Homo sapiens: one gene and its partners. The protein of the gene in region 1 purifies or fractionates together with the protein of each later gene. This does not show direct contact. Each region holds a gene or a part of one and is shown in the gene's direction. Other genes may lie near its edges.

Region 1 (3,655 bases):
TGAACATCGTGGAGTGTACTTACACAAACTTTGATGGTACAGCCTACTGCATGCCTAGGCTATTTAGTGTAGCCTGTTGCTCTGACTACTGTCAGATACACAGTATATTGTTGGCCAAAGCATTAAGAGGCTCATGACTGTGACTTTAACCCAGAGTTCTCCAGCTAGTCAGACTATCATTCAAGAATGAGCATGAAATTATTTTGCACACAGAAATTGAGTTTTCCAGTCACGTTCTGTCACTTAAAGAACCCATAAGTTGTACTTTAGAAAGAAGGAAATGAAGTCAGAAGAAAGGAATGAATAATAAGAAGCAATGTTGAGCAATCACATTGTTGAGCATATTGAGAAGCAATTGTTGAGCATATGAAAAAATAAGAGTGATAATGTAGGATTTCAGTTTGCATAGCACTTTCACATTTATTCAGCTTTTTAATCTTTATAATAATCATCTGAGGTGCTGGTTCTTAAACTTGAATGCCTATTGGAATTACCTGGGGAGTTTTAAACATTACTAAAGCCAATTAAAGATTCTGCTTTAATTGGTTTGAGGTACAGCCTGGTCATTGGTTTTGTTTGTTCGTTTGTTTGTTTTTGAGACAGTCTTGCTTTGTCGCCCAGGCTGGAGTACAGTGGCACAATCTTGGCTCACTGCAACCTCCGCCTCATGGGTTCAAGCAATTCTCCTGCCTCAGCCTCCCAAGTAGCTGGGACTACAGGCGCACGCCACCATGCCCTGCTAATTTTTGTGGTTTTTTTAGCAGAGACTGGGTGTCACCATATTGGCCAGGCTGGTCTTGAACTCCTGATATCGTGATCCACCCACTTTGGCCTCCCAAAGTTCTGGGATTACAAGCATGAGCCATGGTGCCCTCTGGTCATTGGGATTTTTACATTCTTCCCAGATAGTTCAATGCACAGCAGTGTTTAAGAACTTAGGGGCTTGGCCAAGTAATACTGAACCTTAGAGAGGTTGTGATTTGCTCAGGATCAGGTAGGTGTGTGGCAAAATCAGGTCCAGTCTCTTAAATGTTAAATTCTTTATTCTGAATGATACTCTTTTAAAAGCTTGTAAAATTGACAGTCGTGTCTTTACTTAAAAGGAAATAAGACCATGAAGAAATGAGTTAAACACTGAGTTTTGTTAAATTTGGGGAATATACTTTTAGAATTTTCATTTTTAAAGGGAGATTGTGAAATCTGTTTTTAGGGATCTGTGGTTACCTAAATTGAAGGCTGGCAGGCTACCATGTGGCAAGAAGTGGAGGTCTTGATTTGGTCCATTTCCTCTTTGTGTGTTTAAATATATTTTTATGCCTTGCTAAAAATGTTAGATAGATATTTTCTAGCTTACTTATTGGGAAATAATATTAAATATTAAATTAATATTATTAAATAGCAAATATATTAGACTCTATTAAGAAATCATGCTTCCAGAAAAAACATTTCACTAATGATTTTTTCAAAGAATCTACAATAATTATCAGAATATTTGTTTTGAGTTTTTTATTTTATTCAATGTCCTGTATCAAGTTTATTTTACTTTTGCTTTTTAGCAGTTTAAGGAAAGTAGAGTATACTGAGTTTTTATTTTGCTGTTGAAAAAAATTTTTTCTCATTTTTGATGATGGAATCTGACATTACACTTGAATTAATTATAAAAACTTTTCTTCCCTCCCTTCCTGGTTTTAGACCAACAGCAGCAGAACTATTAAGGCACAAATTTTTCCAGAAAGCAAAGGTAGGAAATTCCAGCTTTTGATTATGTGTGTTCATAGGATGCTCCTCAATTACTCAGATTATGTTCAGTGCTTAGAAGTTGGATGATTATGTTTGGAAAAATGATGGTAGATAAAATAATTGCAGAAAGCACTATGTATACAGTCTTTGATAATTAAGATAATTGCTTCAGAATTTAGTAAATCCGTTTTTAAATATTAGGTTAAACTGATCATAGGAACAATGATTATTAAATTTTGCCATTATAAATATAATTTGTGAAAAATACCGAACTCTGGTTTTAAGGTTTACTACTGAATTTGTAAACATCTCATTTCCCAAATATATCAGATAGTAGGATGTTACTGTAGTTGGAAATGTAGGACCATGATCTCAAAGAACATACAGTACAGCAAACTCTTCATAGACAGTGGTTCATACAGTGTACTACATCTTAATTTTCTGCCTCAATTTATGAAACTGTGGTAGTAACATACTAAAGGAGCTTCAGAGTGAAAGAATGAAAGTTTTTCTCACACTTCATTACAGAACAGTTACTATATCACATTTTGATTATGGTGAACTTTTTTGTGGGTTTTTTTTGGTACCTTAAAAACTTGTAAGAACAAAATACTTACTTTTCCTCTCCAGAATAAAGAATTTCTTCAAGAAAAAACATTGCAGAGAGCACCAACCATTTCTGAAAGAGCAAAAAAGGTAAATCAGAATTTAACTCAGTTTTCCTGAAGAATTTACTTTATTTTTGCATTTTGAAAACATGTTAAGTAATACATTGTTAATAGTATATGAGAATTACTGGTTTTCTGTCGATCCTTTCTAAAGCATTCTTTGATACATTCATTCAGCAAATATCTTTGGTCTACCATATGCCTTGGTATTACTCTGCTATCTTTTAGGATGAAAAGGGATGCTAGACAGTAATTGGTAAATTAATTCTAAACTCTGTTTGATAACTGTTTCCAGCTACCAGAGTGAGTTGTGATTTTACATGACATTTATAGCTTTGGGTATAAGTCACAGTACCCTCTTTGGAACTCCAAATTTTCTACTGCCTTTACAGAAAGACTGAAAGAACTTTATTACGCATATGTAATTTCTAAGAAGTTTGGTCATGATGTGAGCATACAGAATGCTTTAATATCTCAGTTTGGGCAGAATATATTAATCTTCCTGTCCATGATACTTTTATGAACCTCTGTGAGAGCAGGGAGAAGAAAATCCTCCCTTTTCCTCACTCTTACTTCTCTGCTCAAGCAGACTTATCCAATGTGAAGGAAAGGAGGCAGTTTGGGCTTCTGCTGATGATAGACTTGAAGAAGGTAAAGGTCTTACACCTTGTATAATATAGTGGTAGGCCTGTCCAAGAAGTTAGAAGCATTATGTCTAGCAGTGGCTTATTCTCTTCCGTAGATCTCACTGCTTGGGAATTTTGATACATTCCAAGAATTTAACACAATGAAGAACCAGAAATGTATATTAAATACTTGGAAATGATATTCTTAATAAGCACTGGTAAAACAGTTAACTTGTCTCTATTTTAGAGATATATCTTTTTCAGTGGCTATAATGCATCGTTACATATCAGAATCACTTGGGGACTTAAAAAAAAAAAGAAAGAAACATGGACAATGTCATCCCAAACCAATTAAAGTCATGACTCTAGTGGATGAGACCTGGACAATTATTCTCATGGATAGCTACTAGGTTAAAAACTCACTTGGCTCATTCCTTCACTTTATGTCAAGTCTACTCAATTGGCCTTTCCTCAGAATAATATTCTCTGATTACTAAAACAGTACCCTCCCATGACTCTCTATCCCTTTACCCTACTTATCACCATCTGACATTTTACAGTGTTTCTTTACCATTAGAATAACAGCTTAATGAGAACAGGGACTTTTTTTCATTGCTGTAT
Region 2 (3,655 bases), on another chromosome or scaffold:
GAATATGTAGGGAGACAGAGGGAACTCCTTGAGGAAAGGCAGAAAGACAGGACAGTATGGGCTGTGTGTGGAGGACAGAGGGGATGTTGAAGGTGAGGCTATAGACTGGGTTCAGGCCAGAACATTTTGGGTCCTTTTCCCATACCTTATTCTTTCTCAGTGAAATAAGGAAAGCTTTTGGAGAAAATAATTTTGGCAGGGGAGCTGAGATCAGAGGTGGATATGCTATGAGGAGCCTTTCCAGGAAGGGTGGCAATAGCTGACACTGGATGTATATGGCCTTTTATTCCCAGTGCAGGGCAAGGAATGGCTGGAGTTGGAAGAAGATGCCCAAAAGGCCTATATAATGGGACTCTTGGACCGGCTAGAGGTGGTCAGTAGGGAACGGCGGCTGAAGGTGGCCCGGGCTGTTCTCTACCTGGCCCAAGGTGAGTGACCACCCTTGCTAGCTTTAGAGGGGTGGAGGCTTGAGAGGGAAGTGGGCATTATCAGGACTGAGATGACGCAGGCTGTGCTGGGAAAGCAAGGTTTCTTGCCTCTCAAGGACAGATCTTGTCATGTGCTAGGAGTAACCTGTGCTTATGAGGAAGATGAGATAGTGTTGAGTGCTGTTCTAGATCCCTCGGGATCTGCCTTTATCTTACCAGGTATGTCAGAATTTTTTATAGGGTTCTTCTTTTCCCTACCCTGTACTATAATCATATGTGAATACTAGCAAGAGGTGTGGCCAGAGCTGATATGTACCACCAGCTGATCATGGAGACAAGACATCAACTGTGGCCTGGCCCCAAAACTGAGGAGAAATAGGAGAGTGTCACAGATACACATGGACCCCTTGCATTGTTTCTCATTGGCATTTTGAAAGTTCAAGCCAACATAACTGCGGGAGTGGATGCTGTGAGTAATTTGGAGATGATCAGAACTAAATAGAGTAATTGGGGAAAGCTGCTCAGAAGAAACCTGTTAGCCAGGTGTTGGAAAGGGAAATGAGATAGCCTAGCTGGAGTGAAAATAAGCCTACGATCATAAATATAAGGCGTGTTAACAGAACCAACCAGTTGGGAGCTAAAAAAAAAATTGTAAAATAAAAAAATAATAAATGAAGAGGGGAAAGGGTGGACATTAGGTGAAGAGAAGACTAGCAAATAGGACTGTGCCCTCCTGTATCTCTTGGGTCTGGTGCTCTGGCCAACTTCCAACTGCCAGTACCTTCATATGTTTGCCCAAGGACTTTATTTATCTAAGTTTTTTAAAAGAAAGTCTCACTGTGTTTCCCTGGCTGGTCTTGAACTCATAGGCTCGAGCTATCCTCCTGCTCCAGCCTCCTAAGTAGCTAGGATTATAGGCATGTGCCACCATGCTCAGCTTCTGCTCAAGGGCCTTCTCTGCAGCCCATACAGGGCATCCAGGAAGTGTAGGGAATCAGTGTGCTCCTTTAGTTTAGCACCCTCATCCAATGACTAACAGGAGTTAGTGGATGGATAGCCTGACTGTCTCACCCCTCTTGGATAGAATAACTGTGAGTTGTGTGTTTTATACTGTTTCCAAATTATCCCCTGAGTGAACTCTTTGGGCTTCCTTTTCTTCCCTATCTCTACTGATGATTCCTGGGAATGATTCCCAAATAAGCTACTTGCACTGGAATCCTTACTTACCTCAGGATCTGCTTCTGGGAGAACTCACCCTTAAGACGATAGGCCATTGATGAGCACATTGGACCTAACCCTGGAGACTACCTCTCCTCTCCCCTGACTCATTCCAGGAAGTTCTTGGGGCCCCTGTCATACCTATGTCAGCCTAATTATTAGGCAGAGTATTATAGGAAAATCTTAAGATCATGGGGCAGGGTGGAAAGAACTGGGATACTGCCACCCCTCAACCCCTGTAACAACTGTCTGGTCCTTTAGGTACTTTTGGGGAATGTGATTCAGAGGTCGATGTGCTACACTGGTCCAGGTACAACTGCTTCCTGCTGTATCAGATGGGGACCTTCTCCACCTTCCTGGAGCTACTCCACATGGAAATTGAGTGAGAAGCCTTAGGGGAAGGGCTGGCCTACATAACCCCCATTCCTTAAAGGGGCCTCATGTTCTATGCTGCTTCCCTCACTATAGAGACCCCCTGTGAGGAACTGGGTCTACTCACACCTCAGCCCAAAGCTCATTGACAGTTCCCCTCCATCCAGCCATGTTCTCTGATATTCTGTTCTCCCTCCCTGAGGTTGGATACATCTGCAGCTTCTGCCTCACTTACAGCTTTAATCCTGGGCTTCAGGGGCCTATCCTGAGTGGGTTCTCTTTTTATTCAAGGACTTTCTTAGCTCAGCCTAACTCTGGAATTCAAGAGGGAAACTATTTTGAATGCATGACCCAAGAAAGACAGGAAATCAATTCCTGTCATTGTGCCCAATTCTTTCCCTCATGGGCTATAGTTCTAGAGGTGGCCTTATTTGCTGCTACCACTACAGTGACCCCTTGTTTTGTCTCATGCCCATCACCCAGGAGTTTGAGATAGGGTGCAATCTGCTTATTATTCATCAGGTGTTTCTTAGCATCTGTTTTATGTCCAGCACAGTTCTAAGCATAGTGGGGAATGCAAGAGGAGTGGATACCACAGATCCTGCCCTTGCCTTGTCTTCACCATAGATGAGAGTTTGCTGAGGTGGCAGGGGAATTCTGTCAGCTCCTTTACTCTAGACCAGTTTCATTAGTGGCTGCCTAGCCAGGGAATGGCAAGCACTCATATTTGTGTGAGTGATAAGTAAGAGCACAGAGAGAAAAGAAGTCTTATGCATTCCTGTTCTTTTTCTCCTCCCCTGGCAGCAACAGCCAGGCCTGTAGCAGTGCCCTTCGGAAACCAGCTGTCTCCATAGCTGATAGCACAGAGCTCAGGTGAGTGGGGCTAACTATGGGCTTGGAACAGGGCAGATGATTAGCACCTGGGTTACCTTTTCCCCAAATCCCAGATGACTCAGACCATTAGGAAGTTGCCCTGTAGCTAATCTCACTGGGTTGGGCTTCCCACAGAGACCATCTCTGAGGTCTGTGACTATGGGCTGGGAATTGCCTTGGGAACCTCTTGTGACTCTTCTGTAACCCCAGGGTGCTGCTGAGTGTTATGTACCTAATGGTGGAAAATATTCGCCTGGAGCGAGAGACAGACCCCTGTGGGTGGAGAACAGCCCGGGAGACCTTCCGCACTGAATTAAGTAAGAAATGGCACTTGAGGAAGGTGTGGATGGGGTGCTAATGGGAGAGGGGAAGCAGAGCATCTGCCTAGGAGAGGCAGACAGTCGTTTTTTCTTTTGTTTTCTTTTTTAAAATTAATGTCCTTTCTTTTAGGACACAGATACTGCATGGCAGGCACAAGGGCTGGGCTTGATTGCCGCCCTGTATCTATGAGCTAAGACCAGCCATGTAACTTCTCTATGCCTTGGTTTCCTTGGTTATAAGTGGGGATAGCCATTCCTCTCCCACTCTATCACGAGTCCCACATGAAAAAATGAGTTGAATCACCTTGAAAACTGAGTTCTGTTCAAATGTAAGTTGGTGTTGTCATCTGACAGGGATAGGATATGAAGGACTATGGGATTTTAAAAATATATTTATTGATGTGGAAAAGTGAATGACATTGAGTCCTTTAGCCAGAAAGCAAT
Region 3 (3,655 bases), on another chromosome or scaffold:
GGAAACTTTAATAGCTAACTTAGTCTTCTCTTTTCACTCTTTGCTTCCTGCAGTCTAGTACAGTGGTTAATTCCATGGGTTCTGGAACCAGATTCCCTGTCATGTGACTTTGCGAATACTAATTAGCCTTTCTAAACCTCAGTTTAGAGGAATGAGGATGAGAACAGTGATACTGTTTACCTCACATGGTTGTGTCAGACAACTTGTTATGCACAAATTACTTAGATAGGACATGGCAAACAGTAAATGTCCCATAAATGTTAGGTGGTAAGAGATATTGAGGTTGTTGTGGTTGTTTTTATTCATACAGACTTGAAACTGATATTCTCAAAACATTAGTCAGATACATTCTCTGTTGGCTTCCTGGCCCTTCTTAGCACAATATCCAAAGGCCTTCCTGTGGCTTACCAAGCCCTGCAGCTCTAGGTTACCTGGTTCCTCTCTGATCACATTGGCCCGTGCTCGCTGTGTTCCAGCCACACTGGCCTGCTGCTCTTTCCTGCCTTGTTCAGCCTTTGAGCACTCATTTTCCCTCTGCCACATTGCTCTCTCTTCAGAGATTTGCCCAACTTGCCGCTCCCTTCATTTAAGTCTAAACCCAAATGTCAACCACTGTTCAAGAATATCATGTCATCTTTCTCTATATACCTAATTTTTTTCATATCTTAAGAAAATACAACTTTTCACTACCTAACATTACATTATATATCTGTTTATTGGCTAATTATGCTGTTAGACCAGATTTCATAGTACAATAGTCCCCTCTTATCTGAGGGCAATACCTTCCGAGACCAAGTGGATGCCTGAAACTGTGGATAGTACCAAATCCTAATATACTATATTTTTTCCTGTACATACATACCTATAATAAAGCTTAATTTATAAAGTAAGAGATTAACAACAACAGTAAAATAGGACAATTATAACAGTATGCCAGCATCGCTACTCTTGCACTTTGGAGCTGTTATTAAATAAAATAAGGTTTCCTTGAACACAAGTACCACGACGATTGCTCTGATGACCTAGAAGGCTACTAAATGACTAATGGGTGGATAGCATCTACAGTGTGGATATGCTGGACAAAGGGATGATTCATCCCAGGCAAAACGGGGCAGGACTGCAAGGTATTTCAGTGCACTACTCAGAATGGTGTGCAATTTATAAACTGTTTATTTCTGGAATTTTCTATTAAATTTTTTGGACTAAGTTGACCAAAGGTAACTGAAATCACAGAAAGCAAAACTTCTTATAAGGAGGGACTATGTAAATGAGTGCAAGGGACCTTTTCTCTTTGGTTCATCGTTTTAGCCCCAGTGCCTTTCATATACATAGTCGATGTTCAAGAGGTATTTGTTAAATGGATATATGGGATGTGATGGGGTGAGTGACTGACAAATATTTTCCCCTTCCTTCTTTACACAAGAGATGCTGAAGTTACCAGATAGTTGGAAAGGCCCAAATTAACTTTTTTGAGATGTAGAGTTCAGGTTTCCCCCTTCTTTCCCATGAATAACAATATATTGTGTAATTCATCATAATTACTTCAGTTAACCACAAATGGAGTAATTGCATTGTTAAATTAGTACCCTCTTACAGTTACTATTCAAGGTAAACTTCTTTCCTGGGTAGCTAGTGACAAGAAAATCATTTGGGCTCATCATTTATTGAGCACTTAAACCCACTAAGCCCATGCCACACTCCTGGTTGTTACCAACCTCCAGTGCTGAAAGAAGGAACTTGTTAAGTCTGTCTGGAATCAGGAAAAACAGAGACATATATAATGTTCTCCAAAAATTCTGCTGCTTATAAAGAGCAGTGAATTCAGAGTGTCTAGGGAAACAGGATTTTTAAATAAGGATTTAGGTTTAAGATGCCTCTTAGTTTCTTAGGGATGGGAAGTGAGTTTTAAAAATTAGCATTTTTCTTTTAATATGATAGTAGAACAATTCGGTTACTGTTTGATAACTTTATACTAATTCATTGACTTTATTATATGAAGAAATAAAGGACTTCAAGAATAGCTCATAACAAACCGGGTGGCGTGGTGGCTCAAGCCTGTAATTCCAGCACTTTGGGAGGCTGAGGCAGGAGGATCACTTGAGGTCAGGAGTTTAAGACCAGCTTGGCCAACATGGTGAAACCCTGTATCTACTAAAAATACAAAAATTAGCCGGGCCTGGCAGCATGCACCTGTAATCCCAGCTACTCGGGAGGCCGAGGCAGGAGAATCGCTTGAACCTGGAAGGTGGAGGCAGTGAGCTGAGATCGTGCCACTGCACTCTAGCCTGGTCAACAGAGCAAGACTCTGTAAAAAAACAAACAAAAACAAGAATAGCTCATAACCTTGAACGTCTTTGTTTGTTTTCTTCATAATTCCTGAGAATTTTTTAAAAAATACCATTACCAATTTCAGTTAATTATCATGTACACCTAGAATATGGAAGTTATTTTGTGCTTTTTATTTTGGGCCTCTTTTCTACCTTTAAGCTTAACATCCAACAGTCTTCTGAACCATATCTTGTTATAATCTGAGCAAATAATTTTCTTTCTGATTGAAAGAGGGTAAACATAAGCTAATTTGTTTAGTCCTTTTTTTAAAAAAAAATCACTGACACTAAATGAGTTAATGTTTGGAGTTTAGTTGACCTCCTAAATTATCCCTATTACAACATAGTAAGACACCATATCTACAAAAAATACAAAAATTAACCAGCCTGGTGACACGTGCTTATAGTCCTAGCTACTTAGGAGGCTGAGGTGGGAGAATCACCTGAGCCCAGGAGGTTGAGGCCGCAGTGAGCCATGATTGCATCACTGCACTCGAACCTGAGCAACAGAGCCAGACCCTGTCTCAAAAAAAAAAAAAATTGGTACCATTCAGAGACAGTGTCAGATGGGGTGTTGACTGGGTTGGTTCACCTATCAGATGGTAAAGTAGGTGTTCTGAGGTGAGCTCAAGGAAGATTGAAATCTCCCATGGAGCAGGACAAAAACGTACTTGATCTTGATTATCTGTATTTATAAAGATTGTCAAAGTAGGACCAAGAAATTTTTCTGATCTTTGGAGTTATCACTGTGAAGCAGAATTCACCAGTCCTTGTTCATCAACCTATCTTGTGTTCCCTATAAATGTTAATGTAGAATAGCCTTATCTTATCTACAAAATATTATTTTTATTAGAAGAATCTAAGTGTAAATCAGTAGCCAAAAATCAGAGATCTGATTTATTAGCTGTTCTCTCTTTTTATTTATACATGGACTTTAATAATCATTATTATCATTATTACAGGCCATGGTTGCTTGTTATCCGGGCAATGGAACGGGTTATGTACGTCATGTTGATAATCCAAATGGAGATGGAAGATGTGTGACATGTATATATTATCTTAATAAAGACTGGGATGCCAAGGTATGCAACTTAATTGAGCATTTATTTTTTTCTTACAGGTGTCTTTTTCTCAAAAGCATTAAGTTTCATACTTCTGATAAGACTGTCACAGACACAGTTAAAAATTTTCCTCTTAAATTTGTTTCAGTCTCAGGTATTAGGAGTGGATTTTTGTAAAATGAAACAAATACTACTCTATGTTATACAACATGATACCTGTAGTTAACAACGTAGTGTTGTGCACTTAAAAATTTAAGAGGGTAGACT

What was found.
Region 2: the proteins of OXSR1 (region 1) and STRIP2 purify together in Homo sapiens (co-immunoprecipitation; one large-scale study listed by IntAct). This does not show direct contact.
Region 3: the proteins of OXSR1 (region 1) and EGLN1 fractionate together in Homo sapiens (co-fractionation; one large-scale study listed by BioGRID). This does not show direct contact.

Annotation. Positions count from the first base shown.
Region 1 is NC_000003.12:38,227,995-38,231,649, forward strand, and holds part of OXSR1 (serine/threonine-protein kinase OSR1), read left to right. Parts: intron 1-1,692; coding exon 1,693-1,741; intron 1,742-2,370; coding exon 2,371-2,436; intron 2,437-3,655. UniProt on the Homo sapiens protein: Effector serine/threonine-protein kinase component of the WNK-SPAK/OSR1 kinase cascade, which is involved in various processes, such as ion transport, response to hypertonic stress and blood pressure.
Region 2 is NC_000007.14:129,451,320-129,454,974, forward strand, and holds part of STRIP2 (striatin-interacting protein 2), read left to right. Parts: intron 1-293; coding exon 294-428; intron 429-800; exon of another isoform or gene 801-897; intron 898-1,907; coding exon 1,908-2,028; intron 2,029-2,822; coding exon 2,823-2,891; intron 2,892-3,101; coding exon 3,102-3,208; intron 3,209-3,655. UniProt on the Homo sapiens protein: Plays a role in the regulation of cell morphology and cytoskeletal organization. Required in the control of cell shape. Calmodulin-binding scaffolding protein which is the center of the striatin-interacting phosphatase and kinase (STRIPAK) complexes.
Region 3 is NC_000001.11:231,373,734-231,377,388, reverse strand, and holds part of EGLN1 (egl nine homolog 1), read left to right. Parts: intron 1-3,289; coding exon 3,290-3,409; intron 3,410-3,655. UniProt on the Homo sapiens protein: Cellular oxygen sensor that catalyzes, under normoxic conditions, the post-translational formation of 4-hydroxyproline in hypoxia-inducible factor (HIF) alpha proteins.